4 linked regions of the Homo sapiens genome follow. The protein of the gene in region 3 interacts with the protein of the main gene of each other region in a biochemical or structural test. Each region holds a gene or a part of one and is shown on either strand. Other genes may lie near its edges. The genes, in order: IRF5, DDX3X, MAVS and RIGI.

Evidence for each region.
Region 1: the proteins of MAVS (region 3) and IRF5 form a complex in vitro, tested with the Homo sapiens proteins (one study listed by BioGRID).
Region 2: the proteins of MAVS (region 3) and DDX3X form a complex in vitro, tested with the Homo sapiens proteins (one study listed by BioGRID).
Region 4: the proteins of MAVS (region 3) and RIGI form a complex in vitro, tested with the Homo sapiens proteins (one study listed by BioGRID).

Annotation. Positions count from the first base shown.
Region 1 is NC_000007.14:128,934,073-128,940,951, forward strand, and holds the start of IRF5 (interferon regulatory factor 5), read left to right. Parts: upstream 1-3,854; 5' UTR 3,855-3,977; intron 3,978-4,144; exon of another isoform or gene 4,145-4,173; intron 4,174-5,053; exon of another isoform or gene 5,054-6,879. UniProt on the Homo sapiens protein: Transcription factor that plays a critical role in innate immunity by activating expression of type I interferon (IFN) IFNA and INFB and inflammatory cytokines downstream of endolysosomal toll-like receptors TLR7, TLR8 and TLR9.
Region 2 is NC_000023.11:41,337,137-41,344,161, reverse strand, and holds part of DDX3X (ATP-dependent RNA helicase DDX3X), read right to left. Parts: intron 6,755-7,025; coding exon 6,697-6,754; intron 6,472-6,696; exon of another isoform or gene 5,127-6,471; coding exon 5,079-5,126; intron 2,679-5,078; coding exon 2,546-2,678; intron 1,668-2,545; coding exon 1,509-1,667; intron 1,426-1,508; coding exon 1,326-1,425; intron 947-1,325; coding exon 811-946; intron 426-810; coding exon 340-425; intron 133-339; coding exon 34-132; intron 1-33. UniProt on the Homo sapiens protein: Multifunctional ATP-dependent RNA helicase. The ATPase activity can be stimulated by various ribo-and deoxynucleic acids indicative for a relaxed substrate specificity.
Region 3 is NC_000020.11:3,863,834-3,870,858, reverse strand, and holds part of MAVS (mitochondrial antiviral-signaling protein), read right to left. Parts: intron 6,604-7,025; coding exon 6,071-6,603; intron 5,177-6,070; coding exon 4,712-5,176; 3' UTR 1-4,711.
Region 4 is NC_000009.12:32,488,185-32,495,209, forward strand, and holds part of RIGI (antiviral innate immune response receptor RIG-I), read right to left. Parts: intron 5,759-7,025; coding exon 5,577-5,758; intron 4,368-5,576; exon of another isoform or gene 4,355-4,367; coding exon 4,207-4,354; intron 3,237-4,206; coding exon 3,117-3,236; intron 1,268-3,116; coding exon 1,160-1,267; intron 704-1,159; coding exon 550-703; intron 20-549; coding exon 1-19.

The sequences.
Region 1 (6,879 bases), on a different chromosome or scaffold from region 3:
GACGGAGTATCGCTCTGTCACCCAGGCTGGAGTGCAATGGTGCAATCTCGGCTCACTACAACCTCCGCCTTCTGGGTTCAAGCAATTTTCCTGCCTCAGCTTCCCGAGTAGCTGGGATTACAAGTATGAACCACCACGCCTGGCTAACTTTTGTATTTTTTTTTTTTTAGTAGAGACGGGGTTTCCCCATGTTGGCCAGGCTGGTCTCGATCTCCTGACCTCAGGTCATCCACCTGCCTCAGCCTCCCAAAGTGCTGGGATTACAGGCGTGAGCCACCCCACCCGGCCAAGAGGTGTTAAAATCTAAATCAGACTATGTCATGCCTCAGATCTGAACCTTTCAGTGACTGTCCCTAGCAAAGCCATAGCCTGTGAGGTGCCCCTCAAGGCCTCACCCGATTTCATTACTTGAGGATTTATCGTCTATCTTACTCTGCAGAATGGAAGCTCCAGGAGGGCAGGGGTTTTTAGACAAAGTAGAAATTGTCCACCACTTTATCCTGGCAGGTACAACATGCCCGATAAGCATTGTTGAATGTAGACTCACAGCCAATTCGTGACACTGGTGTCACCATTCTCCTTTACAGATGGGAAATGGGGCTTCTGGGGGAGTGAATGGCTTGCTTAGGTCACGCAATTCTAGATTGCAGAGTGAGGATTTGACTCAGACCTGTTGACCTCAGAGCCTGATGTCCAGCCAACAAGTTCTCAGAAACTCGGGGTTTCTGAGAAATAGGACAGTCAGCCTGGGGACCCCTGAGAGCCCAGGCCGAGGGGGTGGGTTTCCTGGGGTAGAGGTTTTGAGAGGCAAAGGCAGTTGTCATCAACCCAGGCTGCACTGAAGGGGGCTGTTCCAGAGCCAGGGTGCATTGTTCAGCTGCCCAGTGGGCCTCTGGGTTTCTTTCAGTTCCCTTTGGTGACACGGCTTCCCTCCTCCCCCCTGCTCCCCACCCCAGCCACCCCACTCTACACTCGCTCACACAGCGTAGCTTCTACTCGAGTCAGGGGAGGGTGCCTCCTACCACACCCTCAGTCTGTGATATTCCAGCCAGGGGAAATGGGGGAAGGGGCCATCTCACTGTGGGGAGTGGGGGGCCCGGACAGACCTCCCTGTCCCCACCGCCTCCTGGCCCATCAAGGGGAAATGGGAGTGCTCACACAAGGGCCGGGTGTGGCTTCACTTCCCCTCTACTTGCCCTTCCACCCCCAGGATGGCACTGGGAGGCCAAGGGATCCCAGATCCTGGAAACACTGGAGTGCTGCTCTCTGTCCTTCCTTTCTCCTGGGCCATGTCTCTGGCCCCAGATGATTCTTGGCTCAGGTTCTTTCAGTTGAGGGAAGTCAGGATCTGAGCCAAGCTGAGCCCCTGCATAGCCTCTATCCCGGGAGCCCCATATCAATGCTGCCGGCTTGGTAACATCATCCCCCTTTTAGAGACGAGGAAATGAGATTTGAGGTCCTACTTAAGGCCACTTGGCTGGAATACAGCAAAGCCAGGTGCAAGCCCCTTCTCTGCACGCAGCCCGTGCTGCTTCTTGAGGTTCAGAGGCTCTAAGGAAGGGGCCTCACCTGAGCAAGATGGACAGTGGGAAGGGGGCAGAGGGCAGAATTCTAGGGTCTCACGGTCCCTCAGAATGGGTGAGGAGTATTTGATAACAAAAGAAGGCTCTTCTTAGCTATTGCTCCAGATACGACCAGCATAGAATATTTTTCTATTAAGCATAACTGACCTCCAGTGAAAAAGGTTCCCATTTTGTGGGGAGCCACTTTTGAAATAGCAATTTCATTTTATTATTATTATTTTGAGATAAGATCTCACTTCTACGCCCAGGCTGGAGTGCGGTGGTGTGCCTCCTGGGTTCAAGCAATTCTCCCACCTCAGCCTCCCAAGTAGGTGGAACTATAGGTGTGTGTCACCACGCCAGGCTAATTTTTGTATTTTTTGTAGAGACAAGGTTTTGCCATATTGCCCAGGCTGGTCTCGAACTCTTGGACTCAAGTGATCTGCCTGCCTTAGCCTCTCAAAGTGTTGGGATTACAAATGTGAGCCACCGTGCCTGGCCTAGCAATTTCATTTTTAAAGAAAGAAATATAAAACGATCTACCCATTCACATTTTCCCCATCCATACTTTAAATTTTAAAAATATGAAATAATGAAATACTCAGCAGATACAAATAATAAAATACTTATATATAATGATATTTCGACTTCATATTAGGGCTTCAAAGGTCAGGAAAGAGGGAGAGATACAGAAGAGAAAAAAAAAAAACGTTAACACATGAGTGTCTTTTTTTAACTTGTTAAAGGTAAAGTTCAACCCAGGAGAAGGGAGGGGAGGGAAGGTCAAAGTTCTGATTCATCAACAAATACTACTTTATTTGTTAAAAATACAAGGCTCTGCTTGGCGCAGTGGCTCCCGCCTGTAATCCCAGCACTTTGGGAGGCCAAGGCGGGTGGATCGCCTGAGGTCAGGAGCTCGAGACCAGCCTGGCCAACATGGTGAAACCCCGTCTCTACTTGGGAGGCTGAGGCAGGAGAATCGCTTGAACTGGGGAGGCAGAGGTTGCAGTGAGCTGAGATCGCACTGCTGCACTCCAGCCCGGGTGACAGAGCAAGACTCCATATCAAAAAATAAAATAAAATAAAATGAACAATGAAAAGACAGGAGGGAGGTTCCTGAGTAAGCTGATTCGAGTGGAAATCAGACATCAAAATTGAAACCCGCTGAATTTTCCAAAAAGCCAGATGCTCATAGAACTGAAGCTTGAGACACTTACATCAGTACACCTGCTGCCTGTTGACCAATTCCTCTTCCTTGTCCCTCCTGTTTTCCTTCCCTGCTATATAAGCCCCTAACTTTAGTCAAGGGGAGGGATGGATTGGAGGTTTGTCTCCCCTCTCAACAGCTCACTGGCTGATGTCACCGGAATAAAGTCTTCCCTGGCAATACTCGCTGTCTCAGTGATAGGCTTTCTGTGCGGTGAGCAGCCAGACCTGGACCAAACCCCTGGCAATCCATAACAAAATCATAAGCAAAATCAACCAGGAAGCTATTTGCACCCTGGAACCCCACCTGGGAGGGGAAGTCAAGGCAGACTTTCCAGAGAAGGCGATGCTGAAAATTTCAGAAACAGAAATTTTGAAGAGCAAGAGTTACCAAGCGAAGAACATTCCATGAGAAGGAACAGGAGGTGTGTGAAGGTGGAGGTTCTGGGGTGAGGTTCTTTATGGAATCGAAAACGGTTCAGAACCACAGGTCGACGGTCAAGGTAGTAGTGAGAGGAGGTGGGACAGGCGACCACGCCGCTGCCCCTGGGATGACTGGAAGGCGACTTAGGGGAGCTGGGGCGAGACAGGTGCAGGGTTTGAGGATGAGAAAGGCACAGAGTGACTAGAGGATTCCCGCCTGCAAGCACATCTGGAAGGGGTGTCTGGATCCTGGGGGCAGCGACTGTGTTCTAGGGCGAGAGCCACCCTCGCCAGGGGTGTAGGCAGGCGAGAGGAGGGCCTGGAGCTGTGGGTCGGCCACACTGCGCCCTCATTTGTGTGCAGCCCCGGAGGACCAGAGTGGGGAAGCACCCCACCCTCTCCCAGGGCCCAACTGAGCACTGCAGCGGGAGGTACGGGGTTGTCAAATGACAGTTTTGCCATTCCAGATTGCCAAAAGAGCCAGTGGCCAGTCTAGGGCACCGCGCCGTCTGGCATCTCCCTGGAGGCCCTGGGCCTGGCCCGAGGCTCAGCCCGGATCTGCAGTTGCCAGGTCAGTGCGGGGCCCGGAGTGGATTCGCGGGGCGGGGCGGGGCACTGCCCGCGCCCGGAGCTCAGCAGCAGCTGCCCAGGGGCGGGGGCGGCAAGACGCGGAAGTGCCCGGCAGGTTGGCGGACCGGCGGGAGGCGCAGCCTGGGCAGAGCTCAGCTTGGTCCCGCCGCCCGGCCGGTGCTCCCTGGCGCAGCCACGCAGGCGCACCGCAGACAGGTGGGTCCCGGCCGCCGCGCTCTCCTCTCTGCGTCCGCGCCCGGCGCGCCCCGAGGGTGGCGGGAGCGGTGCCGGCTACTGCCCCCAAGTCTAGGCCTAGACTGGGCCCCGCGCCCCCCAGGCACCTGCGGGCGGCGGGATGAAGACTGGAGTAGGGCGGGGTCCGCGTCCAGCTGCGCCTGGAAAGCGAGCTCGGGTGGGTGCCTACAGCAGGGTGCGCCCGGCCGGCCTGGGACTTCCAAAGCGCCTCCCACGCCCCGATCGGTTTGGGGTGCTGGCGCCCGGGGAGCCCAGTGACCCAGGCGGCGGAGTGGGCAGCGCTGCGGGGGGCGCCGGCTCTGCTGCTCTCCCTCCCCCTCGCCATCGCCCAGAATGGGGGTTCCCGGGAGCCCCGCTGGAGGCTGGCTTGGACCACAGAGGAGCGAGGCCCGATCCTTACTTTCGATGCACTCGCCCTTGCTCTTACCGGGCCACCCTCACCCTTTCGGAAAAGAGGTTGAGGTTAAAGCGTTCATCCCCCGGGATCTTCAGGCCAATGGCAGGAACTGTGCAAGAGTTTGGGGGAAGATGGTGTCAGGTAGAGGCTGCGTCCCTGGGCTCGCGGCCGGGAATGGCAGACTCTCGTCCCCCGAGCAGCGGAAAAGGATGGGGCGCAATAGTTCCTGGGCTGGTTTCCTCAGGTCCTGTCCCAGAACTTAAGAAGGCAACAATGAAGAGGCTAAACGTGGAGGAAAAGTGAGGCTAGCATGGCCGGGATGCGTGGGGAGATGGTTGTCTCCGGACCCCGGGAGGGGCGGGAGCGGGTACCTGGGAGCAGAGGCTGGAGTGGGGGACTTTCCCAGCCTCGCGGCCACGCTGAACACAGCAGGGCGAGGACCGGGGTGCTGCTCCTCCAGCAGCAGGAGGAGAGGTCCAGAGGCCGACTCTGGAGGTGGGGGTGGCTCCGCGGGCTGGCCCAGGGGGTGTGCCCCAGCGGAGCACGCGGGAGGGGTGGGGGCGGAGGGGAGGGGGGAGCAGGGGCGGAGGACTGGGCTGGGCCTGGGCTCCTCGAGGGCCCAGAATGGGGATAAGTGACCAGAACCAGAGAGGGCTCGGCTGTATCGATGTAGGAAACTGTAGCCCCTCAGGAGGCCCTCTGGCAAGACCTCCCCTTCCTGCCCCCACCCCCAGTAGTTATGGGGCCTGGGGTGCTGGGGCTGAGGGGTTCCAAGAGTCAAGGGAAGCACTGGGAAATCACCCCTTTTTATCTAAAGGCCCTACTTTGGGGTTTTTCCCCTGTACCCTGGTCTTCCCCTACCCTGACCCTGGGAGGAAGCTGAAAGAAGCTTCTTTCTGGGCACCTTTTGCCCCAGAGCCTCAGCCTGTCTGGACCAGGTGGGCAGCAGGGCCCAGGGTGTGGGCAGCTGACCCGGAGGGGTGGGATTTGGGGGTCAGGGCCTGTACAGGGAACCCCTTGTCCTCTCCCTGAGCTGGGTGTGGGTTTGCAAGGAGACATGTGACCCAGACCAACCCTGGGAGCAGCAGGGCGCCTGCTGTCTGGCCACTCTTACTAGGACTGCTGTGGCACTTCCTCCCCTAGTGGGTCCCTGGTGCCCATGAATTGCAGCTCCTGGGTGGTGGTGGGGGCACTGTCTCCTGGGACTCCAGCATGGCCCTGGGGTGAGCTGTGGGCTTACCCCACCTCAGCAGGTCCTCTAGGGCTGCCCACTGGATGCTTCGCTGCCTCACACAATTGTAGGGACTTCCTCAGGCTGTTGGATTTCCCCACCTTCCGGGGCTCAGGTCCATTGACTTAGGTCTAGGGCTCCATACATTTCACCCAGAGACTCCGGAGCCTGGCAGGCAGACCTGTTCTGACACCGAACTTCCAAAGTCATGGGCCTTGATTGGGGTGGTCTGAATTAGACCTAGCCCTTTTCTGGGCAGAAGGGAGCTTCTAGGAGGATGGATGCTGTTCGGGTTAGAGCTCGTGTGGACCTAGCTGCAGGCAAAAGCCTTGAGGCTGAGTCCCTTCTGTGGCATGGTGGACAGACTCTCGCTCATCACAGCCGGGCTTGTCACGGGAGCTCCTCCTCCACACCCCTCCCTAAGCTGCCTGTATGGACGCGGCCCTCTGACACTGAGGTCGGAGTTATCATTTCAAAACCTTGCTCTGTATTAAACAGCCGTGTTGGGCAGGGCCAGACTGCTGGACTGACAGTAGGGGGCAGGCAGCCGGACCCTCTGAGCTCCCCAACGGCACCAGCGCCTGCACGGCCTCAGCCCAGGGGGTCATTAGGGAAGCTCTCCCCGATTCTGTGCAGACAGAGCTTCCTCTGTCCACCCTTGCTCGGCCAGAATTGTGTGCCGCTGGTGACTGGCACCCCTCTATTCTAGGGCCAAGGCCTCTCAGGGGTCTACAGATACAACTATGGGTGGGTGCACACCCATGTTATAAACCACACTAAATGCACAAAAACTGTCTGCAAGTTTGGGGTGCGGGGAACAGCTCTGGGTGGGAGGTTGGAAATTTGGTCTGGGGGACCCACTCGGCTCCCTCCCTCAGCCCACAGTGAGTCTGGTTTCTGAGTTGTCCCGGTCTAGCCACTTTCGTTTCCCCTGGGGCCGGGTGGAGGCTGGGGCAGAAAGCGGAACTGAGCCCGCGTGTTCTGAGGCCAGGGCAGGGCTGGAGCGTTCTGAACACCTCCCCGTCCCAGCCCCTGGGCCAGGCAAGGGCCGGCCTTACCTCTCCTGGGTTGGTGGCAGCAGAGCTGGGCTCTGAGGGAGGCCTGCAATGTGAGACAGTAGCAGCTCAGAGGCGGCACTAGGCAGGTGCAACCCCAAAAGGTACTGGGCAGGGAATTTCAGGGGAAACTGAGGCTCCATGCTGCAAGGCCAAAGCAGGCCCAGACACAGGGAGTTC
Region 2 (7,025 bases), on a different chromosome or scaffold from region 3:
AAAAAGCTAATAATCACTGGAACTCATACTTACTTTTCTGGCTTCCTCGTAGATCTGTACTGCCAACTCTCTCGTTGGTGCTAATACCAAGGAGATTGGGTATTGTTTGCGGCGCCCATACCTTCCATTTTCCTAAGAAATAAGTTAATTTTTAAGTTAACTCTACCTACCCTGTTTGAAAAGTTCATCACAACATAATTCCCTTTTGTAATTTATAGATTACAGATTACACTTGAAAACTGGTTTTCATTCTACTTAAGTCTTAGCATCATTTAGAAAGCCCTCTCAATGGCCACCTACAAAGTTCTACAATTTCCCATTTTATAAAGAAACATCTACCTTCATGGCCCTCAAAGCCTCGCCTGGACCATCTGAATAAATCTGACTCAAGATGGGCAACAGAAATGCTGCAGTTTTTCCAGACCCTGTTCAAAAACAAACAAACAAATCCTGCTCATTACTTTTAAACAGACATTGGTAGATGACAGTGTTTTTTAACTACCCTATTACTAATAATTAGTACTTTTAGTTTATGCTTAAGTTTTCCAAAAAGTGGCTTCTCTGCTCCACCTCTAAGAGGAGTCAGCAAACTGAGACTATTTTGTAAATAAAGCCTGTTATTTTTATAAATAAAGCTCTTACGGAATACAGCCGTAACCAATAATTTATGTATCATCTATGGCTTCTTTCACAGTCCAATAGCAGCGCAGAGCAGCTGCAAAACTGCATGACCCATAAAAAATAAAATATTTTATTGTCTAGTCCTTTACAGAAGAAATATGATGTTTTACTCTTATGAGTTGAGCTTACCTGTTTGGGCACAAGCCATCAAGTCTCTTTTCTCTTTGATAATAGGAATAGCATGCTTTTGCACTGGAGTTGGGCGAGTATAACGAGTAAGCTCAATGTTTCCCATGATAATTTCTCCCATCTCAACATCACTGAACTGTTAAGAAATTCAATGGGGTTAGGAATGCTATCTAGAGCTATTTCTGTTTTATACTAATAATGGAAACAACCAACCAACAGCTGATTGGTAACTCAGTTTATAGTTTAAGTAAAATTATCACATTATACTTTGAGAAAAACCAACCCCCAGGCTTACTGCACATTGGAGAAGACTTTGGGTTGTTCCTATGTTTGACCCATTTTCTATTTTAGGTAATAAATTATTCATAATGGTGACACTGAACTCAACTTCTCCTTTTCCACAAATCTATGAAGCCTCTGGTCTACATGACTTTATGAAGCCCATCTCACATTCTAATGTAACATGAAAACATTTAACCTCTCTGTGTCTTAAAAAGTCAAGCAAAAATACTCACACTTTCAATATGTGGAGGACAGTTGTTGCCTGTTGCCTCAACTGGAATGTCATCGTATTTCTCAAAATTAATCCCAGTGTTGCCTCCAGAAAAGAGTTCCCTCAAATCAAAAAATGGATAAGTTCATTTGTTATACTAGCTAGTAAGGCTTCATCACAAGTAACATACACTTCAAAAACTTACTGTTCCAAGCGTTCACTTGGTGGGAGTGGTTTTGACCAATCATCTTCATCTGATTTGTCACACCAGCGACTGTTTCCACCACGTTCAAATTTGCCAAAGCCACTTCTGTCACCACGGCTGCCAATGCCATCGTAATCACTCCGTCCACGATCATCAAACCTGAACAGCACAAGCAATTAATCAGAATCATATCATTTAACCATTATCAGATTCTTATCCCTACTCTAGAACTGTATCTGGAGACTTAAGTTATGGCTAACCATAAGGATGTCAACAATCCAATTCTGAGTTACTTGACAAATAAGGCTCTCTAACCAGCATCATTTACATAACCTCGTTTTCTAAAATCAGTAATCTTTACATTTCTATAAAGTTGTATAGCCTAAAAGGCCTCACAGATGCCAAAATTAAGAATAAGGATTTTATTTGAAATCGGCACACAGCTCACAACCTTCATTTAAAGTGCTCATCCAAATATATTTAATGGTAGGGAAAACAAGAAAATAGCACACCAAATATCAATCGTCCTAGTTATACTAGGATGTCACTTAAAGGACAATTCACCTGTGTGACAGACTTTGGATAAAAGGTAGAAAATAATCCTTACCTGAACTAAGATGTTTTTAAGAGTTTTAGGCCTGTTTGCGAAAAATCAGGACACAGGACTAACCACAGCTATTAGGCACGTGGGGTCAGTTCACCACACTTGTGTAATCAAAAATACAAGGTGTTTAGAAATTGTTATAGAGTCCACAAAAATCCCAACCAAATTAGGCCATTCACTAGATGAACTTACTCTTTTAAGTAGAACATATAAAACTCGAGAAATAGAATAACTCATTTCATTATGCCAATGAGCATATTCCTATTTTCATCTAATTTCTAAGTAACAGGTTCAATTTAGTAAAAGCCTCTTACGGCTAAGAAAATACAATGACCAAACAGACATAATGCTTAACATCCAAACAGGTGGTCAGGATAACGACTTATTAAACTGTTATTATACATACACGTAAGGTGATTAAGAAATCACTTACCTTCCCCTTGATCCACTTCCACGATCACTGAAGAAGCTAGACTTCCCTCTTGAATCACTACGAGATCCAAAACTGCTATACGCATCCTTATCTTTGCTAGAACTCCACCCTGAACTGTCTTTATCGTAGAAACCTTTGATTAAAAAAGCACAAATACATTTTATTATTAATTAGAAATAGGAACCATGTTAAGGTATTATCAATCTTTCTGAATTTGAAAGCCTCCACTGACTATCCCTACCATGGCACTGTAAGAGAACCAAGATTTAAAGCTGGTTTACACCCGGACAAAGTTTTTCTTTAATTCTCCCCACTAGAAAATACTGTCCACTGGCCAGGCATGGTGGCTCACGCCTGTAATCCCAGCACTTTGGGAGGCCAAGGCGGGCAGGTCACCTGAGGTCAGGAGTTCGAGACTAGCCTGACCAACATGGAGAAACCCCGTCTCTACTACATATACAATATTAGCCAGGCGTGGTGGCCCACGTCTGTAATCCCAGCTACTCAGGAGGCTGAGGCAGGAGAATCACTTGAACCCGGGAGGCTGAGGTTGCAGTGAGCCAAGATTGCGCCACTGCACTCCAGCACGGGAAACAAGAGTGAAACACCCTTGTCTCAAAAAAAAAAAAATTACTTTACACTAAATCAAGCAATCTGACAGTCTAAGAATGTTTCTCAATGAATACTACCTCTAAGTGGTCAACAGCTTTGCCTGTAACGCATTATGACGTTGTGTGACCATAACAATTTAATTTCCATTCATTTTATAGGTGTGAATGAGTTTACTAGGAAAAACAGTTACCATTGTTTCCATGTTTCTTGGAGGTGGTATTCATTTAGAACATTCATAGACTGTCAGATTACTTGGTTTAATACAGTATTTTTCAGTTTCAATAGTATAAAGTACAAGAACACTAATGTCAAATTGTAGTATTATTTTAGTGGTTCATCTACTATAAGCTTGATGACAATCAGGAATACCTGGGAAAAAGAAAAACCCTCATCACTATATATTCTCAGTATAGACAAGGTTCCTGGGTACAGCTATAAATATCCAGGTAAGGGGATGACAAACATGTAAATTAACCCAAAGACAGGTAGAGGGTTTAAAGACAGGTAGAGGGTTTAACTAGCTTCAGCAACACCTTATTAAACAGAAACAGCTTCTCAATTCAGTTACTTTCCTTCTGCCTTCTACCTCCTACCGTTAGGCCAGTCAGGTGACCAACAGCCTTTGCTAGCAAGAAAGAGTTAAGTTAGATTGCCAGATCTCTACCAGCTCTAAAACCTCTATGATACTGCCATATACACGAGGGTCAATTCTAGCTAGTATACTAGGAATATTGAGAACATCCATGATGATAAAGACAAATTCCAAAGTAACCTCCCCTAAAAAGAATATAATGCCAGCCAGGCATGGTGGCTCACGCCTGTAATCCCAGCACTTTGGGAGGCTGAGGCGGGTGGATCACTTGAGGTCAGGAGTTCGAGACCAGCCTAGGCAACAAGGCAAAACCCCGTCTCTACTAAATATACAAAAATTAGCCGGGCATGGTGGCACATGCCTGTGATCCCAGCTACTTGGGAGGCTGAGGCAGGAGAATCACTTGAACCCAGGAGGCGGAGGTTGCAGTGAGCCCGCGCTACTGCACTCCAGCCTCCGCAGCAGAGCAAGGCTCCGTCTCAAAAAAAAAAAAAAAAAAAAAAAGCCAAAGTGATCTTCTGGTAGAAATAATACAGATTTTATATCCATGCATTGCCAGGACAGTGAAGGTAATACAGACTACATATGGAGATGGAGGAACAGCAGCAAACCATGTGCTCCCCTGTGGACTCTCCACTCTTCCTATCTGCCTTCTTTATACAGTATCTTCCCTCCTAATCTTTGGTTTTCCTGACTTTCCCTTTTCCTCCAAATTTTGGATGGTCTATTTTACAGAATATAAAGCACCCGAACAGCTGTCTCATAATATGAAACATATACTAGCTGTCATCTATCACTACGTTACAATTACAATGGGAAAAGACACCAGATATTGTAATACATTTTGGACAAAACCTTTCAAAAGCAGCAAGGCAAGGAGATGAAACCAGAGAATCACTTCCAACGCTGTAACTTGTTAACTGTTCTACAATAAGCCCATCTTCATTTCTAGCAACTTTGCCAAGACAGAAATAACCAGGTTGTTATCATTATACAGCTTGGTTTACACAGTAGGGCACCCACCTCTTCCAAACTAAAACCATGCTGTGAATGATTACAAACAGATTCAGCACAACACTAGTGAAACTGTACAAAACCATGCCCTTGGCGTCAGAACAGTTTGACATAGGAATGCCGAATTTCCCACTGCGTAACATTAGATGAGTTCTTCCAAAATTATTAAGCTCTAGTATTTGAACCAAGGCTGACAGAAGCATAGAAAAACAACACCATGTTTAGACCTCCCCCAAATGCCTGGTTTTCCTTAGGCTTTACTAACTTCTAAAGGAGGCAAAAAATAGACCTACGAAGTTACTTGTGAGGACCTACCTTTAGTAGCTTCTCGGTTCCTTAAATGAGGAGGAATATAGCGCCCTTCTAAAAAAATATATATATATATAAAATTAATTAAATGCCAAAAAACCTTCCCATTTAAATTTCTGTTACTAAAAAATGGTTCTGGGAAATTAAAATCTCCAGCCTTCCAATCTGATTACTTACCTGGACACTGAGAGGGGGGAAAAATAAGAATCTAATTTTAAATGGGTTACTGCTTCATAAGGAGAACTCTGAAAGGAGTTTGATAAAAAAAAGCTGATTTGGAACCTAATAGTTGAAATCCACAAATTGAGCACATTTAGCCACCAGTGGTCATTTAATGTGATTTTTTTAAAGGCCTGCTAGATTTAAGAGAACTGTCATCAAAACTGTCAACAAAAGCATTAAGTATTACTGTAACAATTTAAGATTACTCATGTAACATATCTCACAATCTTTTGTTTCTATGCCAGTAAGTTGCAAAACATACAATAAATAAACAAGGAAAAGCTGCAAAGGGGAGTTAATTTCAAGGAATTGCAGGTTTTAATTTGGGGCTTGCTGAGTTTAAGGAAAGTTGACAGTTGCTCTGTATGCGAGCAGGAGTACAGCCTAGAATATGGATAAGCAAAAAAAACAACATAAAGCCAAATAAATTTGCTTTATAACTAGTAAACGTGTCATTTTTCTTTTTCACTTCTAGACTGAATTAAATATTTTTAAAAATCTCTACTAGGACAATCAGTTCCTAAAAGATTCTTAGCATGACAAATAAGGTGAAAGTTAAAGCAAACACCAAGTTTTGTTCCCAGTGAAGCTGTTCTTGCCTAAAAATGAGGACACATCATAGCCCATACTCACTTTTGTTTTAATAAGTAGGAAGAGATCTGAGCTAAAAATAAGGGTCTATTGCCCTTATAATAAACCACCAAGATCCCCTATCTTAACACTAACCTCTAACAAGTCTCTAAATAACCCCCCTTAGAAGAAAAAAAGCAACTTTTCTAATGCCTTTTTAAAAGAAATGACACATTTGAAAACCTAACCTAACCACCAATCCAAAATTCAGTATAGTCTTCTGTTCTTCAGGAGAAAGGAGTAGCTATAACCAATGAAATGCATATTCCCTTAATTCAATTTAATAAATATAGTCAGTTAACAGGGACACATTCCCATCACCTCTAAACTGGGCTCAGGATTTATAATGGACAAAAACTCTTCTAGAGATAATTTGATATAATAAGGTTCTTTCCAATGATTAGCTGCTTTTACTCAAGAGAGCCAGCTAGTCATTGATGTTTTATTATCAGAAAGGCACAGCTATTCGGGAGGCTGAGGCAGGAGAATCGCTTGAACCCGGAGGCAGAGACTGCGGTGAGCCGAGATCACACCATTGCACTCCAACCTGGGCAACAAGAGCAAAGCTCCATCTCAACCAAAAAAAAAAAAAAAAGGCAACGATGCTTTAGATTGATCACTAAGTACTACATAATTCTATAACACAAAGACTACATAATTCTTTAAGCAGTAAAAAATTGAAAGGCAAATTTCTTAAATTTTACATAAGCCCAATGAAATCTTAAGATGTTAAGCTCTAATATTCAATAAACCCACAAGATGTTGTACTTACTGCTGGCTGTACTTCCTCCACTCTGATTATCTGAAGAGTTCAGGTCTAGGCCAGCAAACTAGAAGAGAGTGAGATGGTTAGCACCCCATGTGCTCAAATACTACATTAAGAGAAAACTAGTCCTGCCCTCTAGCATTTGCTAGTACTGCATTCAAGTAGTTGCCCAGTCCACCTCACAGGGCTAATACCAACCCTTAATGAGAATGTGACTAAGAATGTTTTCAAGTCTGCAATGCTCTAAGCAAATGCAATATTACTATTGTATATACTACAGAAGGCGGCACACCAAGATGCTTGTGCTGTTCAGTAGAAACTGTCCAAATTTAATT
Region 3 (7,025 bases):
GCAGGCAGGGGTGAACAAGATGGCCATGAATTGATAATTACTGAAGTTGGGTGATGGGCTCATGGGGATTTGTTATTCTACTCTCTCTACTTTTTTGTGTTTGAAAGTTCATAATAAATAATGTTGCTCAAAGGAAGCTATTAATAGTTTGAGGCCAGGCAGGGTAAAGAGCATCTCCTAGATTTTTTTTTTTTTTTTTTTTTTTTTTTTTTTTTTTTTTTTTTAGAGATAGGGTCTTGCTTTGTTGCCCAGGCTTGTCTCAAACTCCTGGCTTCAAGGGATCCTCCCACCTCGGCTTCCCAAAATGCTGGGATTACAGGCACAAGCCACCACATCCAACCTCCCTCATATTTGACTAAGAAGTCTCATAAATCTGAGAACACCTAGCAAGGAATTAAGGCGAGGGTGTGGCACTGTTCTGGCTTCAGTCTATCACCAGGCAGAGTCCACGCATTCTTCCCAGGGAGAAAGAAGCAGTGACAGCTCTTGGGCTTTGAGGGAAATGATTCAGCGGGAGAAAGAAGGTGGAGAGGGGCTAATATGCAGATACCATTGCTGCAGGTGGCTCTGCCCCTAAGCACTGAGGAGGGCACTGGTCCCTCTGGCCCCACCCAGCCTTCACCCCAAGGTGAAGTACGCTTTCTCAGGTCCCCAAGGATGGGTGGCCAGGTCCCCCACTGGGAGTGGAGGTCTCACTCCCTTCCTTGGGTTCTGACCTCCACATTATCTGGCTGTGAGGGTGACCTGCCTGGCTTTCCCCACCAAGTGCAGCTCCCCGCAGCTGAAAGCCACACTCTCAACACAGGACTCCTGAGATCTGACACTGGCCAATTCACACCCTGCTTGAAGCTGGCATTTGAGAGGCCTTCAGGTTGACAACAGCAGCAACAAGTTTGCTGTTCAAAGTAGGCCAAGTCACGGCTTTGAGCGGCATCATTTGAAAAGTGCTGGGATCAGCCAGGCGCAGTGGCTCACTCCTGTATCCCAGCACTTTGGGAAGCCAACGCAGGTGGAGCACTTGAGGTCAGGAGTTCAAGAACAGCCTGGCCAACATGGAGAAACCCCGTCTCTACTAAAAATACGAAAATTAGTCGGGTGTGGTGGCAGGCCTCTGTAATCCCAGCTACTCGGGAGGCTGAGGCAGGAGAATTGCTTGAACCCGGGAGGCGGAGGTTGCAGTGAGCTGAGATCATGCCACTACACTCCAGCCTGGGCAACGGAGTAAGACTGTCTCAAAAAAAGAAAAAGGAAAAAAAAAAGTGGTGGGGTTTGGGTGCAGTGTCTCACATCTGTAATCCCAGCACTTTGGGAGGCTAAGGCAAGATCTCATGAGGCCAACCTGGGCAACATAACAGCATGACCTCATCTCTATAAAAAATTTAATTTGGCTGGGCGCGGTGGCTCACGCCTGTAATCCCAGCACTTTGGGAGGCCGAGGCGGGCGGATCACAAGGTCAGGAGATCGAGACCATCCTGGCTAACACAGTGAAACCCCGTCTCTACTAAAAGTGCAAAAAAATTAGCCAGGCGTGGTGGCAGGCGCCTGTAGTCCCAGCTACTCTGGAGGCTGAGGCGGGAGAATGGCCTGAACCCAGGAGGTGGAGGTCGCAGTGAGCTGAGATCGCGCCACTGCACTCCAGCCTGGGTGACAGAGCAAGACTCCATCTCAAAAAAAAAAAAGAAAAAAAAATTTAATTAGCCAGGCATGGTGACAGGTACCTGAAGTCCTAGTTACTCAGAAGGCTGAGGCAGGAGGATCGCTTAAGCCCGGGAGTTTAAGGATACAGTGAGTTATGATTGCACCACTTCGCTCCAGGCTGGGTGATTCTCTAAAAAAAAGAAAAAAGAAAAAGATGGGAGGATGGGAGGCGGGGCTAGGGGACTGGGAAGGTCCCTCAACCCTTTCTACATGCCTTACCCAGGGTATCTCCCATCATGGCTGGTTACTGTGCTAAAATTATAATTTTTTTTCTTTGAGACAGAGTATCACTCGGTCACCCAGGCTGGAGTGCAGTGGTGCGATCTCAGCTCACTACAACCTCCGCCTCCTGGCGGGCTCAAGTGACTTATCTTCCCACCTCAGCCTCCCATGTAGCTGGGACTATAGATGGGCGCCGCCATGCCCAGTTACTTTTTGTATTTTTTACCTAGGCTGGTAGTGTGCTAACATTCTACCACTTGGGCAACAGTCTTCGGGGCTACATACTGCCTTTTTTTTTTTTTTTGAAACAGAATACCACTCTGTCGCCCAGGCTGGAGCGCAGTGGCACAATCTCGGCTCACTGCAACCTCCGCATCCTGGGTTCATGGAATTCTCGTGCCTCAGCCTCCTGAATAGCTGGGATTACAGACGTCTGCCACTACACCTGGCTAATTTTCTTATTTTTGTAGAGACGGGGTTTCACCCTGTTGGCCAGGCTGGTCTTGAACTCCAGACCTCAGGCGATCTGCCCACCTTGGCCTCCCAAAGTGCTGGGATTACAGGCGTGAGCCACTGCGCTCGGCCCATGTTGCCTTTTTGAGATACTTTTTTCAAAGCTACCCTGGAACGGTAATACAATAAAACTAGTACCTGTGCATAAATTGTTAACTGACCTGCCCAGCATGGGTACCTAACTGGGGTTTAGGGTAGGGGGACAGAGGGCTTTTTAAGATTGGTGGTGGGGGATGGGGATTAATACAGACAGCTCGGGTAGGGTCCACTCCTGGTTCCAGGGTGCAGGTTGCTGGACTTGGAGCATGGGATGAAGAGATGTTCAGAGATAGAGATCATTAGGTTGCTGAACTCCCCTAGGGCAGTGGAGTGAAAAAGCTGTAGCAGCCAAGGCAGGGTGTAGATCCCTGGAGGCTGACGGCTTGGGGTGGGGCCACAGTGAGCCCAGCCCCTGATGGCTCTAGTTCTTGTCCCTTGCAGAGCTCAGAAATGGAGGTGGCTCCTGTGCCTTGTCCAGCAATGGTTCCCTGAAAAGAACCCATAAGGATACCCCCAATCCACCCCAATGTGTTTCTGGTGTTATTGTAGATAATCTCCCCAACAGTGGGTGAGCTTGGGGTGAGGGAACCTGGCTGCTGGGAGTGGAAACGCCCTATATCCTCCATCCTGTACAGCTGCCCAGTGGACATACCTCTCTCCCCAGCAATTTCTCAAGGCACAAGATAAAGTAAGGGGCAAATACAAAGATAAAGCTGTGAGGCAGGAGGGTCTGAGTCTGCCTCTAAAGGAGTAGCCAAGACTCCTGTTTCTCTGCATTTTTCTTTTTCTTGAGACAGGGTCTCGCTCTCTCACCCAGGTTGGAGTGCAGTGGCACGATCCTAGCTCACTGCAGCTTCAAGCTTCTGGGCTCAAGTGATCCTCCCACCTCAGCCTCCCAAGTAGCTAAGACGACAGGTGCACCACCACGCCTGGCTAATTTTTTAAACTTTTTTGTAGAGATGGGGTCCCTGTTGCCCAGCATGCCTGGACCCTCAACACTTAATAGTGATAATAACATATATCCAACCCTTGGTAAATGCCAGGACTCATCCTAAGACCTACATCGATAAACTCCTTTAATCTTCACAACACTGGGAAATATATATATATACTTATCCTCCTTTTACAGGTGAGAAAACTAAGGGACAGACAGATAAATCCCTTGCCCAAGGTCACAGAGCTGGTGAGAGGCAGGTTGGGACGCAGGCCTAGGCTGCCTGTGCTGCAGAGCTGCACCCTTGACCACTGTGCACTCTGCCTCTCATGCCCTCAGCTCTACCAGGTTGGGCAGGAGAGAGATGGGAGAAGCAGTGGCCACTTGCTCTGGGCCAGGCACTTGGCAAACACCTGTAGGTTCAATCTCAGAAGAACCCAGTGAAGAATGAGCCAGATACTCACTGTCCACGTGGAGAAGCAAGACCAGAAGTCTGACATCTGCCAAAGCCACACAGCCCCGGAAGTGAGGGAGCTGAAATCCAAACCTCTGCCTGAGCTCTGCCCACCAGGTGTCTCCTCCCCAGCCCATGTAGGGAGCTGAAGAGAATGGAGACCAGAGGGGAGGGAAAGAGGAGGCTGGAGAGGAGCTCCACAGGTCTTCCTCAGGCCTGACAGCTGCCCCTGGCTTCCCTGAGGTCCACAGGAACCTCCAGACCTTCCCAGGATTGCCCAGCAGGGGAGGGGGCCCAGTGGGGCAGGAACTCAAGGCAGTTGGGCTCCTGGAGAGCAGCCACCCTGCCGCTCCTGCCTGCCTCAATGCAACGGTCTCAGGCTGGGCTGCCAGGATGGGAGGCAGGTCTTGTGGAGTCGCCCACACACCACATACCTGCCCTGAGGCCTTCAGGGACCAATGCAACAGGAGAGGCATTCCCAAGCACCACATGTTCCAGTGGTCCCTCCTGCTCCACCTGGGCCAACAGGGCTGAGGCCTGGAGGAGGAAGCTCCTCTGGAGGACATGGATGATAACCTGGATTGCCAGTGGGGAAGGTCTGGAGCACTGGGGGCAGCCCAGGACCCAGAAAGCCAAGGACGGGGACCCACACAAGGCACCGTGGGGACAGAGATGCTGCTCTCAGGACTTGGTTCAGCCAAGGCATGTCCTGCTGCCAGGCCTGCAGTCCCTTAACTCCCCTCTGACCCAGCCTCCACAATCCCCAAGAAAGGGACAAGGGGCTTCGGAGAGGGGCCAGGTGTACTGCAGGAACGGAACAGATGGGTGGTGGGAAGAGCCCAGGGCTTCACTAGTGCAGACGCCGCCGGTACAGCACCACCAGGAGTGTGACTACCAGCACCCCTGTCACAGCCACCTGGAGCCACAGAGCCCCAGGTGAGGGCCTGTGGCATGGCACCTCCCTCTCCTGGAACTTCCGGTCGGCTTGTGGCCTGGGGCCGCCATCCGGGTCCGCAGGTGGCCCAGGGTTGCCCTCCAGGAGCTGGATGCTGGGGTTCTCAGCCACGTGGATCCCAAAGGTGCCCTCGGACTTATACTCATTCTCCTCTGGGCCATGGCAGGGCCCCATGCCCAAGGAGGTGCTGGCACTGATGGCAAGATCCTCGAAGCAGCCCGAGAACGGGCTGTCTACCTGGGATGCCAGCACGCCAGGCTTACTCAGCTCCGACCCAAGGCCCCTATTCTCAGAGCTGCTGTCTAGCCAGGCTGAGCTGCCTCCAGTGGCGCCGGCGGGTGTTGGAGCTGCTGGGGTCTCCTGGGAAAGAAAGGAGAGCACTGGAAGGGACTGGGGTTGGCAGGGAGACGAACCTGGTAGGGCGGTCCCATTCCCAGGCCAGGGCATGAACTAACACTCCAACCCCTCAATTCCCAATCTATAATGCCCCTAGGCCACCTTTTCTTGGAGCAGTGGGGGTAGAGGGGACCAAGAATCTGCACCAATGGTGGCCTCCTCCAGGGCAGCCTTTCCCTACTCCCTGGCCTGCCTGTGAGCTCATGCCCACCTGGAAGCCTTTGGTAGGGCGGGGCTCCATCCTGCACTGACATCCTGCCTGGGCCTGAGAACTAGAGAGCAGCCACAGGGTCAGAGGCCTGGCCATGTGCCCAAAGGGCCCTATGGACTTGGCTCTTCCCAGCAGACAGCCGCAGCTAGGGTTAGATGTGAGGCTTGGAGCAGGCAACAATGGGGGGCTGCTGGGTCCGAGTGGCTGCTCCAGGTGGGACTGCGTTCTGTAAAGCCTGGCCATGGAGGGACACACCAGGCATCCTGGTGAAGAGCAAGGCAAGAGGCAGATGGGCCACTGTGCTGTCCCCGTCACTGCTTCCTTATGTGCAAAACGGCACCGCTCGGCTTCACTAGGAACTACGAGCCCTAAATGAACTTATACACCTGACCAGTGGGTGCCCCCTGTGGCTGACCCTCCTGAGGTGTCCAGACTTAGAAGCTCAATGACTGTTCCTCCTGGAGAACATGGTGTGGGGCCTGCATGAGGCTGGTTCTCAACTGTCTGTATGCCCTCAAGGAGAGGCCACAGAGCAGCACAGGCTGGACACAGAATGCAGACTGGGAAGGGGCCAAGGCCAGGGCCAGGTGGGCAAGCTGTCCCGGGGGAAGGGGCCAGGATCCCTGCCAGGAAGGGCGAGGACTCACCTCATTTCTGCTGCTCCCGTCAGTGGGGACTGTGCTGGCAGACACCTTGGTGAGCACCATGCTAGTAGGCACTTTGGATGGCACCATGCCAGCACGGGTTGAGTTGATGGGCAATTTGGATGGTGCTGGATTGGTGAGCGCATTAGAAGGCACTGCACCAGGGGGCTTTGAGCTAGTTGGCAACTTGGAGGGCACTGTGCTGACAGATGCTGGGTTGGCAGGCACTTTCAGGGCCACTGTGTTCACAGGCATCAAGGTGGTAGGCACTTTGGAGGGCAGAGAGTTGGCAGGTGCCTCTGCCCCACTGGAGCAGATGATAGGCTCGGCCTGGTCACTCTCTGCACCCTGTTTACCCTCTGCAGCCCCTGCAGAGGCCAAGCCAGGGGATGAGGAGGAGAAGGAGGTGCCAGTAGATACAACTGACCCTGTGGGTCCAGGCAAGCGGCTTGCCCTGGGGGTGGAACGGGCCAGGGGCTGGAAGGAGACAGATGGAGACACAGGCCCACGGGATGGTGTGAGGCTGGAGGTCGCACCTGCCGGTGGAAAAACACAAGTGGAAACACAGACCCAAAGACCATTACCTTGAGGCCTGGAGAAGGGTCCCTCTGGCCCAGATCTCATGGTCCCTACTGTGTCTAGGCCTCCAAATCTCCTGCCCTTGGAGGAGATGCCACAGTCCCTTTGGTCACTGCTTCCTGGCCTGAAAGCCCAACAGCTGCCCTCAGTCCTTGACCTGTAGCCCCAGGTCTGTCCTGGCACACAGTGAAATGGTACCTAGGAGCCTGAAGACCATTATTAATTATTCTCTCCGCTTTTTCCTCTCCCACCTGGGAAACCTCCCCTCTCCTGTGTCTACCTTTTCTACTTTGACCTTAGCCTCATGCAATCCTGGACACTTCCCCCACTGCTGTCCCTCTCCTACCACCATGAGTGGGAGCAGCCATGGATCAGGGCA
Region 4 (7,025 bases), on a different chromosome or scaffold from region 3:
AATGCCTGTAACTCTATACCTGGGAAATGACAGAAATTCCATATTACTAACCACGATGTGGATAAGGAACCACAAAGATGAAATGCTAGATCAGAACATCAACTGATTAAATTCTCCCTGAGTCCAAAAGAAGAATAGCTGTAGGCAAGTCCTTAGCACAGAGCCTGACACATAGTAAGAGATCAATAAATCCAAGCTAGTTGTAATTTATAGTACTATATATTATTTTAAGTCACTAAGAGAGAAAAGAGTACGTAAAAGAATAATATCAAATAAATTATAAAATCACTAAAGAAGTTAAATGTGCCACGTAAACATCAAATTTATTCCTGAAGTCATTTACTCCCCATAGAAGGGCAAACCAGGGGAGTTTAAGTTTTCTGGTACATCTAACAAAAAAGACTTGAATCCATGAAGGGATAACATCTGGATTATAAAAAAGCTGAATCTAATATAAATTTTTTTAAATCATTTGTCAAAAACAAAACAGAAAACACATCAATTACATGAAGCTGGAGAAAAAGAAGTTGAAGCAACTATTATACCTACCCATGTCTTTCAAAGTATTTTGAGAATACAGATTTCTGCTGTTCATACACTGGGATCTGATTCGCAAAAAAGACAACTTTCCCCTTTTGTCCTTGTGGGAATTTTTTAAGATGATGTTCACATATAAGCAGTGAAACAAAGGTTTTTCCACAACCTTTTAACATGTAAGGAAAAAAGAAAACATGTAACTCATATATTAGATATTTCTCTGGAAAGGTGTTTATTTTTGGCTCTTCTAATACCACTGAGCTGACTAATTAATTGATAATTTAAATATGTTAATGATTACAGAATTTACACTATGACTAAAAAATATCAAGCTGCTCCCTAAGTAGCATGCCAACAGCCAGGACCCAAAAGCAAGCTAAAAGAGGACACTTTTCTTTACCTTCTCATGAAAGGTAAAGAAAATACATTAAATACATTAATGTACATAATTAATTAATTACATAATCCCATAAAAAACATTAGGATTATATTAGGACAGTTTTCTCAAAAGACACATGGAACAAGGAAAAAACTGAAACTTGCCCATTCTGTCCCAGTATTCAACAAAAGAAAAAAAAGGAAGCAAACAGAAAAACTATGTAAGTAATGGCAATAGGCTTACCTGTAGGAGCACATATTATTGTGTTTTTTCCTTTCATAGCAGGCAAAGCAAGCTCTAATTGGTAATTTCTTGGTTTAAATGGGCTGTACAAGTTTGTATCAGACACTTCTGGAATACAAAAGGAGCAAAATTACCAAACAGTTCCTGCTCTGAGGAATCACGGCAATAGCTACAGTCTAATGTCCACAAATTCTGACTCCAGCAAGAAGATCCTCATTGGAGAAAGTTTAGAATCCTTTCTCTTGGTAACCATTCTAGCTTTTCCACTAATTTGAAGTACAGAATTCTCTCAGTGACAAAGTATTGATGGCAAGAAAGAAAAAAAAAAAAACATGAATTATTTTTTATACAATCATGGAAGGCTAACAGAAACCAAAGAAAGAATGGCCCCATTCAGGGTAAGACAAGCTGTCTACTAAAGGCAATGCTGTATGTGAAAAAAGCAACAAATCCTCCCACGATCTTTGAAGAAAACCAAACTGTTAACATTGGATTCTCAAAGCAATTTCTTATTAAGGAGCAATAATGCTTTGTCGTTCTTCAAGTTCTCAAATGATATTTTCTCTCAACATAACCAGAAGTTTTAAAAAATAATCAAAGGCTTTATCTCAATAACAGGTAGGCATATAAATCATTAAGAGCTAGCAAAGACTTTGGAAATTATCTACTGAGTCTAACCTACCCATTTTAGAGAAAGGGAGAATTTCTAAAAGGTTAAGTGAATTAAACTCACACGAAAGACATGTAAAGGCCAGGTGCAGTGGCTCATGCCTGTAATCCCAGCACTTGGGAGGCTGAGGTGGATGGATCACTTGAGGTCAGGAGTTCAAGAACAGCCTGGCCGACATGCTGAAATCCCCACCTCTCCAAAAAAAATACAAAAATTAACCAGATGTGGTGGCACATGCCTGTGGTCCCAGCTACTTGGGAGACTGAGGCAGGAGAATCACTTGAACCCAAGGTTGCAGTGAGCTGAGATTGTGCCACTGCACGCCAGCCTGAGCAACAGAGCGAGAGACTCAGTCTCAAAAAACAATAACAACAACAACAACAAAAGGCATGCAAGAATCTTCACGTGTCAGAAAATTTAAAGCAACTCATATTCATGTATCTGTTTTTTTTTTCCAAGGGGTAACAGATTTTATTCTGAAATGACCAAAAAAACAAAACAAAACAAAAAAACTTGTAACATTCAGTTGCAGACGTAATCTGCACATTTTCTCTTTATGATGTTATTCTAATATCATTTTTCTTCTACCACCACTATTAATCCCAATTTCCTTCCTGATACTCTTTTATACATAACTTTTTATTATGGCATATTATGCAACTTGCCGGTCTCATAAAACCATCAAGAAAATATGCTTTGAGAAGCATAAGGGGGCCTCACAGGGCCACAGCTAACTTATACAGTGCCTTTGTGTAAATGACAAAAGGGAGCTCCTCTTGGAGGACACAGCCCCTCAGTGCACTGTGTTGCAAACGACACAGGCTGGATCTCAGCCCCTACTCAACCTCTCAGCCAGGCGCATTTGGGTAGCACACTAACTTCATCAACTTGCAGGGCAGCCCAGGGATCCTAAAAGGAAATTGAGCAAGTGACTCAGAAATAGAAGTAGTATTTATTTAGAAAGCAAGGTTGATTTGGGAATTCATAGACATTGGGTTTTGGTGAAGACTCTATTTGCATTTCCAATATAGACACGCCCATACTTTCTTAGTGGTAGAAGAAGAAAAAAAAGATAGTAAAAGAAGAAAAAAAGATAGTGGAAGAACTAGGAGAGAATGGCATTCTAAATATAGAAAAAGTATCTATTGTAACATAAATTCTCTTTACTTTCTTAATTTTCCTTACAAAACTTTTCACAAGGCTGTGACTTTGGGTACTGCAAAACAAGCCCCCACACCAAATACCAGAAGAGCACCATTATGGAAAAGGACAAACAATACCAGGTACCTGAAGGTGGACATGAATTCTCACTAAGATTCTGGCATTCTGGATCTTCTTGGTAGAAAATCTGTATGTCAGAAGTTTCCATCTTATCCTCAAGATCTTCTGTTTCAACATCTTTTATACCTTTTTAAGACCAAAAAAGTCTTAGAATCTTCACATAATCTGATTATAGTTTTGATGGTGAAAGCTCCACAAAATGGTCATAACACTAAGATTTTTAACTTCTATTAAAATTTCTCACAACCACTCCCCTTCACCTTTTAAAACAGTTGAAAGAATCATTTTGAGTTTAAAATCTCAATTTGGCGTTGACCTCCAATGTAATTTAGAGCTATATTACTCAAAGTGTGGAACGTATTGCCCTACTGAATCAGAATCCACATTTTAACAAGACCTCGGAGGGATTCGTATGCACCAAAAAAAAAAAAAAAAAAAAAGAGCATGATTTAGCAGACATTCATGTCTTCCTTTTCTGACTGACTCTTGACCCATTAAATCAGATGTGTATTTATACAGTTTCTGAAACAACTTATGATCTAAAGAAGCCTAGGAAAGCTAAGACCAGATATTCAGATGTTTACCAAACTCAGCCTTTGAAACAATGCTGAGTGTCAGCTTCAAGAAACCAAATGATAGTTCAGACACTTAATGACAACCAATTCTTTCACCCGTCGGATTCAGTTCCAGATGGCTTCCAGTAAGAGAACCAGGCAATGTCTGTCAAGAAATCAACTCTGAAAAGGGGGTAAGTCCTGGAGTTTGAACCTTTAACTCTAGAATTCTCAAGCTATTTCTCTGATAATCTAAACTTAGACTGAGAGTTCGGATTTTGCCTTCCTCAAATCCTTTGGGCCAGATGGGCTAATTCTGGATGAGAGTGGTTTTCCCCAGTCCATTTTTAGGGGTTATATGCAACCAAACTAATTTTGTAGGCAAGTAACTGCCTCCCTCCCAGAATCCAGCTTCCTGCTGGTCTCGCGTTAGAGATGTAGCTCTGGCTATCTGAGGGGAAAAACGCCTCTGATGGGATGTAAAAGACCGGTTGGAATGAGCGAGTCCTAAGTAGAGCTGTGAGGAGGGTACAGTGTCTTACCTTTCTCTACAATCCACAGTTCACTGAACTTGTTCCTTTCTTTCTCCAAAGCAAGTTTCAAAGTTTTGGGCCAGTTTTCCTTGTCTGATCTGAGAAGGCATTCCACCAATTTCTCTGCACCTGCCATCATCCCCTTAGTAGAGCAAATCTAAGCAAGGTAACTGTAGTTTATTGATCAATTATCTCAAAAGTTTTCCCTTTATCAATTTTTACTGAAGAAATGTCAGTCATGTACTATCTGATTTAAAGCCATTGTACATTACAGCTCAGTGGGTCATATCCATGACAATTTTTGCCCCATCCAACACAGTCTTTTAAGATACTTTTTCCTTCATCTTTGTCCTTTACACATGATGTCACTATGTCAAGCCAAGCCTTCTCATCACCTCTAAGTTCTTATACCTATCCTCATCAGCAATATTAAGAAAATAATCATTTGACAACCATTCCCAATATGGGTATATTGGCATATAGCAATATTTGGAAACAGATAACAAAATATTAACAAATTTTTCTTCAGGGTTGAGGAATTTGTATGACTTTTACTAACCATAATAACTAAAGTTTATTGTACACATACTCTGTGCAAGACATACATGAGTACTTTACATATATTATCTCATTACCCTTATGAAAATACCATATTATAAGGTAACATTATTATTTCCATTTTACACACAAGGAAACAGATAGATATTCAGAGAAACTAAGTAACTTGCCCAAGATCATACCGCTAGTGGTTGAGCTATGATTCTAACAAAATTCATCTGTGTCCAGAGTCTAAACACTTAACTGCTAGAGTCTGTAGCCCTTTCTCATTTGCTCAACTGTTCAATTTAAATTTGCATAAAATACTATTCACAGACTGTGGTGATTTTAACTGAAAATAGGGCAAACTTCAAAAAAACTTTGTGACATAAAAATTACTCAGTTCACATTAAAAGTACTATTCTGGCTGAGCACGGTGGCTCACGCCTGTAATCCCAGCACTTTGAGAGGCCAAGGCGGGTGGATCACGAGGTCAGGAGTTCGAGACCAGCCTGACCAACATGGTGAAACCCCATCTCTACTAAAAATACAAAAATTAGCTGGGCATGGTAGCACGCACCTGTAATCCCAGCTACTCGAGAGGCGAGGCAGGAGAATTGGTTGAACTCAGGAGGCGGAGGTTGCAATGAGCCGAGATCACACCATTGCACTCCAGCCTGGGCGACAGAGCGAGACTCCGTCTCAAAAAAAAAAAAGTACTATTCTATGAGTACTTTTGTGGGTTTCAATGATCTTTCTCAGGTCTAAAACAGTATAGAAAACAGAAGACCTTCCCATGTTATAATTATTTCCCCCAATTTTAGTATTTTATATTAACTTACCTGTAGAATTTCTTCACATTCCTGATTAATTAAACATTCAGACAGATCAGAAATGATATCGGTTGGGATAATTCTGGTTTTAAATTCTGGTTGTAAACGTTTTAAAAGTAATCTATACTCCTCCAACTTTTCAATTTTTTTGAAATCCCAACTTTCAATGGCTTCATAAAGTCCAGAATAACCTGAAAAAAAAGAAAAAAAATGTGGACTTTTATGAAACCAACTGAAAAATACTTTGAGATTAGTATCATAGAAATCATGTTTGAATGTATGGTGGTAGAATTCAAAAAATATCTGTAAATTACCCCCAATTGTCATTGATTTTTCAAAAAGAAAACAGTATTCATTTTAGTCAGCCAACACTTTAGGTCTTCTAGCAATATTTATTATCTATTGGGAAAAAGTACTAAGGAAAACTTTGAAGTCTTACATTTTGATCTTAGTATAAAATCTTTCTTCCAAAGTGACTCATAGACTTCACCTACAATCCCTGATTTGTCTTTAAAAAGTCAGAGTCAACAGGTTTATTAAGTATCTTCTCAGTGGAAAGCAGTAAAGAAGGCAAAAAGAAATATAAACCTTAATTCCTGCCCACAAGGAACTTTCCTTCTAATTTTTCTAAGATAATATTAAGTAAATGGGAAATTTACTTAATATTATTCTACATGCCTTTAAAAGATATTTATTTAAAAATCATATTTAGAAAGTTCAGAGAAAAATACTAATGGCCAAGAAACATACATAAGATGTTCAACCTCATTCTTTTTTAAAATTGTAGTAAAAAACAGATAAAACATTTACCATCTTAACTATTTTTAAATGTACAGTTCAGTCGTGTTAAATTCATTTTGTTATAAAAAAAAAATCCAGACCTTTTTCACCTTGCAAATCTAAAACTCTATGAAACAACTATTCCTTTTTCTCTCCTCACCCCTGCTCCTGGTAACCACCACTCTTTCTGTTTCTATGAATCTGACTACTTTAGATAATCTATATAGGTGGCAAAATACAATATTTGTCTTTTTGTGACTGGCTTATTTCACTCAGCACAGCACCCTCAATGTATGTCCATTTTGCAGGATGTGCCAGGATTTCCTTTTTTTTTTAAGGCTGAATAATATTCCATTGTATGTGTATATCACATTTTGTTGATCCATTCATCACTGATGGACATTTGAGTTGCTTCTACCTTGTAAGCTATCACGAATAATGCTACTATCAACATGGATGTGCAAATATCTCATCAATACCTTGCTTTCAATTCTTTTGGAAATACACCAGAAGCAGAATTGCTGGATCATATGGTGATATATATTTTCAATTTTTTGAGGGACTGCCATACTGTTTTCCATGGCTGTTAACACCATTTTACAATCCTACCAATCAGGCACAGGGTTGCAGTTTCTCCACATCCTCACCTATATGCATTATTTTCTGTTTTTATTTTAT